Linked DNA regions of Homo sapiens: region 2 is linked to region 1. The links come from fine-mapping of genetic effects on gene expression. A gene starts in region 1. The other region holds a variant in brackets. All regions are shown on one strand. Distances are from middle to middle.

The links. PIP is the estimated chance that this variant, and not a neighbour inherited with it, causes the effect.
Region 2: its variant is the best candidate, but not a certain one, in a credible set for the expression of ZNF484 in blood mononuclear cells (TOPMed, PIP 0.79).

What each region holds. Positions count from the first base shown.
Region 1 is chr9:92,876,594-92,879,504 of GRCh38, forward strand. ZNF484 (zinc finger protein 484) reads right to left here and starts at 1,445. Exons shown (of 5, transcript NM_031486.4): 1 at 1,297-1,445. RefSeq lists enhancers at 1,200-1,735, 1,249-1,688.
Region 2 is chr9:92,912,132-92,915,042 of GRCh38, forward strand. It overlaps the pseudogene ALOX15P2. Among named protein-coding and RNA genes, the nearest start is that of FGD3, 34 kb to the right of the region's middle. RefSeq lists an enhancer at 308-809. The variant C/A (reference allele first, on the strand shown) is at 1,323.

The sequences.
Region 1 (2,911 bases):
GTTTTTCTTGGAATTCGATGTTAAAAAGTGTTTTTCTTTTTTCTTTTTGGTTGAAAAAAGGGATCCTATAATAATACCACTTAATACATGAAAAAGGATAAAAAATGCACTAACCATTAAGTGTATGTATGCCCATCCCTCAGATGCACAAATAAAATTAGCAAAAAAGCACATATAACTGCAAAATGAACTATTAAAAGTGATTTTTATTGTATCTCCTCCAGAATATGAAACAAGTAGATCAAAATTAGGAAAGATAAAGATTTGAAAAATACCAACAAGCAAGACTTAATTAAAGAGAATTTTGGTCCATACAACAAAATATAATTTTTCTTTTATATCTGTTGAACAAAGTTCATTGAGTAACTTGGCTTCAAGGAAAATCTTGATAAATTGTTAAAAGTTGAGACTTGATAGTCTGCATTTTCTGACAATACAATAAAATAAAAAACAGCTAAAACATACTTTAATAATTTGGGAATGAATAAACTCTCCTAAATAACTAAGATTCAAAGGGAAACATCAAAATGAACTTATGCATTTCATAAAGATGTACTTAAAGAAACTTTACAACCCTAAATGTATCCCGCATAAAACTTAAGAAAATAAGGGAAAGAACAACAAATTACATCAAAAAGTGGGAAAAAGAGAAAGTACCTAAAAAGAAAAAGAGAAAAAAATTAATATTAAAAGAGTAGGGAGTATTTTATTGGACATTTCAAAATGTCCAATGAAACAGATAAACCTTTCAGACGCTTGATTCTTTTTAAATAGAGAAAGAATGAATGATATATAAATATAATAACCGTAATGATAAAGGAGCTACTAGTCTGGATATGAAAGAGAACAAAATGGAAATGGAAACATGCAATTCTATGTAATATATTCTTTAAATCTTTAGCAAAATATATCATTATAATGAAACAGAAACGAAAATATAAACAGATCGGTACGTATAAAAGAGAGGAAACTAATTAAGATGTGCATCATTCACACTCCTCAGATCCCTCCTTAGTTCCCATAGTCATCCTCCCCCACAACCCCACAGTCCGCCCTCACTCCGCCCTCAGATCCACCACCAGACAGAGACCCCCAGTCCGTCCTCACTCCGCCTGCAGATCCACCACCAGAGACCCCTCAGTGCCCCCTCACTCCTCCCTCAGATCCACCATCAGAGATCGCTCCGACTTCCACTATTCCATCCACTGACCGACCCCATCACTGACCGGAAGGCTCAGGACAGACATCAGAGATTCTTCTTGCTCAGTCCACAGATGCTGCCATCCCTCTACTCACCTGCCCCTCACCCACGTCCTCTCAGGACAGTGGTCATTTGCCTCGGGAGGTGACTATAGTCGCAAGAACCAGAACAGGACCCACTTCCTTTTTCTCAATGCCTCCCAGGCCTAGAGGTACTTCTTACAGCGCTGCCTGGGTTTGCGCATGCTCAGCAGTCTTCATGGCCTGAAGGTTGCCAGTAATCAACATGGCGCTTTGCCAAACACGCTCCCGTTTCAGCGGCTTAGGCTGGGCGCCAGTATGGCGGCGCCCATGTAGACACTCTGGCCTGTGGGCGGCCATGTTGAGGTCATGTAGAGACTGAGAGGCTGAGGGTTGTCCAAAGGAAAGGAAGCAAGCAGAGGTGTGTCCCATCATACTAAGCCAGGACACAATCAAAGCCTATCACCTCAGGTTACAGTCTTTCTCCAATGCTTCTGTGGACACAACAACACTGTTAATCAACAGGAACTAATCAGCATTTATGTAACACCGCAAACGCAGCCGAATACACATTTTATTCGTGTCGATGGGACATTTAGCAAGATATGAAGTAACCTGGGTCATAAAACAAATCTCAGCAAATTTGAAACAACTGAAATCATACAGTTTGTTCTCTGAACACAATAGAATTAAACTAGAAATCAATAACAGGAAGATAAAAGGAAAATCTCCAAACACGTGAAAACACATGCTAAATAATCCATTGTTCAGAGAGAAAGTCTCAAATTTTTAAAATACATTGAAATGAATGAAAGTGAAAGTGAATGAATTTTTAAAATACATTGAAATGAATGACAGTGAAACACAACATATCAAAATTTGTGGGATGTGGCTAAATCAGTGGTGAGAGAAAAATGTATATACCACTAAGGGCTTACATTAGAAAAGAAAAAAATTTCAAAGCAATAACCAAGCTCCCTCACATACTAGAAAAAGAAGAGCAAAATAAACCGAAGGCAAGTGAAAGAAAGGAAATAATAAGGATAAGAAGATGACTCAATAAAATGTAAAAAGAAAAATAGAGAAAAACCGATTAAACAAAAGCTGGTTCTGTAAATGTTAATAAAATTGACAAATCTGTAGAGGAGACACAAAATATCAATATCCAGAATGAAACAGGAGATACCACTGTAGACCATGACGAAATCAAAAGAATAAAGAGAATACTACAAACAACTCTACAAACATAAATTTCACAACATAGATGAAATGCACTAATTCTTGAAAAAGCACAAATTCTCTCTTACATGAAATAGTTATGTTGAATAGCCCTAGAACTGAAGTCATAATTTGAAATATCTGAAAAAGAAATCTTAAGGCCTGGATAGCTAGATCAGAGAATTCTAACAAACATTTAAAGGTTAACACGAATTATATCCAGTCTCTTCCAGAATAAAAAAAGAATAGAAAGAAGACAATAGAAAGATATTCCAACTCATGAGGCCAGTGTTACTCTGATATCAGAGCTAAAGACAGAAGAAGAAGAAATCAGTATTCTTCATGAATATAGATGGAAAAATTCTCAACCAAATAATAGCAAAAATAATTCAACAATATATAAAAATAACTACAAACCATGAACAAGTGATATTTATTCCAGGAATAAAAAGCTGTTTTGGTATTCAAAAAT
Region 2 (2,911 bases), 36 kb after region 1:
AACAAAAGTGAGAGTCCTGCTGGGTGTGTAGTCCCTGCCTAGGACAAACTCGCATTAGTGGGGGATACAGACATACAAACAAAAGATCACAGCGCAGGATTAAGTGTGCAACAATAGAAGTGTGCACAAAGAGAAAAGTGGTAGAAAGGAAAGCTGACCAGCTCTGGTGAGGTGACAGGGGTGGAATAACCAGGAAAGACTTAGCTGAAAAACTGGAATCAGGGTTTAGAAGGATGAATAGGCTTACCCAGGAGCAGGTTCTTTGAGGGAAAGACGCGTGGGTTCCAGGGAACACATGGCTCCAGCCCAAAGTGAAGCAGCAGAAGATGCCCTGGTGCAGTGGGATGAGGGGCAAGGAGGTCTGGTCGGGTTAGCAAGGGCATTGAATGCCCCCAAATTTGGATTTTTATTCCGCAGGCAATAGGGAGGCAGAGGCGTTTACATTCAAAAGGAATGAATCCCAGAGCCTGGCACAGGGAAGGCAAGTAAGCAAAGTTGGTCCAATGAATTCAGTGGCCTTAATGTGTCTTCCTCAAATGTCACTGAAGACTGGGTCTCCTCTCCCACTTCACCCCCTCCTGTAGCCCAACTTGTGAGACGCGCGCGCACACGCGCACGTTTAGATGGAGGGGGATTTCCTAGCCATCCAGGCTTGCCTGAAACTCCATCTTACACTGGTGCATAACTCCTGCCCCCACCTCACCTGCCTCCTGTACGAGGCGTTGATTCCTTCTTCCTGCGTATTTTCTGTCCAAATCCTTTTCTGCTTCTCCCACCAATCAAAGTAATGGTTTCCACTCCCTGCTTCCGCCGGGACTCCTTTTTGGCATGGGGCTGAGTTCTGCTCCTTGGAGCTCCAGCGGGTAGCTCCTGGAAGCCCCAGCGGGTAGCCAGGCGGAGTTGGTTGGAGACCTGCCACCCACTTTCTGACCCCAAGCGAATTCTGAGAGGGCAGGGTCTCAGGCTCAGCGAGTTAGCTCGTCCACCCTTCTTCCCCACCAGAAGGAGCGAAACGTCTTTGAGCAAGATTGGTCTCTACTGCGTCCGGGTGTCCACCGGGGCCTCACCCTGTGCCAGCTCCAACAACTAGGTGCAGCTGTGGCCCCACGGTGGCTGAGCCTCCTCTGTCTCCCGCGGGAAGTAGAATTCAAGGTTCAAGTACCGGAGCACCTGGGGCCGCTGCTGTTTGGGAAACTGCGCAAACGGCATCTCCTTCTGGACGCCTCCTGGTTCTGCAACTGGATCTCCGTGCAGGGCCCCGGATCCGGTGAGGAAGTGAAGTTCCCTTGTTACCTCTGGGTGGAGGGCAACGGCGTCCTGAG[C/A]GTACCGGAAGGCACTGGTGAGAGCGGGGCTGAAAGCGTGAAAGTGTGAAGAGGCGTCTGGAGTGCAAGAGAAGCTGGGGTGCATGCGGATGTGGAGGATGGGGGTGCTGGAACCTGGAGCGCAGGGGTCTTTGGAGGTTGTTGAAGAAGCGGTTGCGGGAGCTGGCACAGAGTGGCGTGGAGGCTGGGGGTGGGGCGTGGTGCCGAAGGGGCAGGGGCCACACAGAAGGACAGGGTGATGAAGCTCTCTTGGCAGGGACGAGAAGAGGCTCTCAGAAAAAGCCATTGCCCAATCCCTCCTCTCTACTGCACTCTACTCTAGGCTGCACTGTGGCCGAGGACTCTCAAGGCCTGTTCAAGAAACACAGGGAAGGCCGGGCGCGGTGGCTCACAACTGTAATCCCAGCACTTTGGGAGGCCCAGACGAGCGGATCAAAAGGTCAGGAGATCGAGACCATCTTGGCTAACACAGTGAAACCCCGTCTCTACTAAAAATACAAAAAAATTAGCCGGGTGCGGTGGCGGGCACCTGTAGTCCCAGCTACTTGGGAGGCTGAGGCAGGAGAATGGTGTGAACCCAGGAGGCAGAGCTTGCAGTGAGCCGAGATCGTGCCACTGCACCCTAGCCTGGGCGACTGAGCAAGACTCCATCTCAAAAAAAAAAAAAGAAAAGAAAAGAAAATAAAGAAAGAAACACAGGGAAGAGGAGCTGGAAGAGAGAAGGAAGCTGTACCGGTGACCCCCTACTCCCCAGACCCCATGTGAACTGCTGCTTCCAGCACCCGTGTCTGATTTCATTCTTCCCCACTGGTGGGGAAACTGGAAGGATGGGTTAATTCTGAATGTGGCTGGGGCCAAACTATGTGATCTCCTGTGCATGAGCGATTTCTGGAAGACAAGAGAGTTGACTTTGAGGCTTTGCTGGCCAATGGGTGACAGCAAGGGGAGGCTGGGTGGGAGGGGGGTGCTCTGGTCTAGTGGAAGCCAAGGGGCTTATAGGCTGCACTGTGCTGGATCAGCCCAAGATAGGTGCCTGTGGTTGTAATGTTGGAGTCTCAAAATATGCTCAAACCCTTTGCCCCAACCTTCCTTGAAGCCTGGCCGACCTCGCTATCAAAGACTCTAAATGTTCTGACTTGTTGGAACAATCTGGATGACTTCAACCGGATTTTCTAGTGTGGCCAGGGCAAGCTAGCTGATCAGACCCCCTACCCCAATACTCCTCCCAGGACTCTTACTCCAGCTCCCACCCAATCCAGGGGAATTGAAAGAACCAGGGTGGGGAGACCAGAGACTTGGGTCCCTCTGGTGGGCTAGAGTCAAGTGGGCATGGTTGGTGGGGGTTGGAAGGACCAAGAACTCAGATCCCACAACTTGCTCAACAACTGCCTTCCCCAGAGAATGTGTGGGACTTCTGAAAGGAGGATGCCTTATTTGGGTACCAGTTTCTTAATGGTGCCAACCCCATGGGGCTGAGGCTCTCCATTCACCTTCCTACCCACCTCGTGTTCCCTCCAGGGATGGAGGAACTGCAGGCCCAGCTGGAGAAGGAGCTGGAGGTATGGACATCAGAGCCCCAGGGAGGCCCA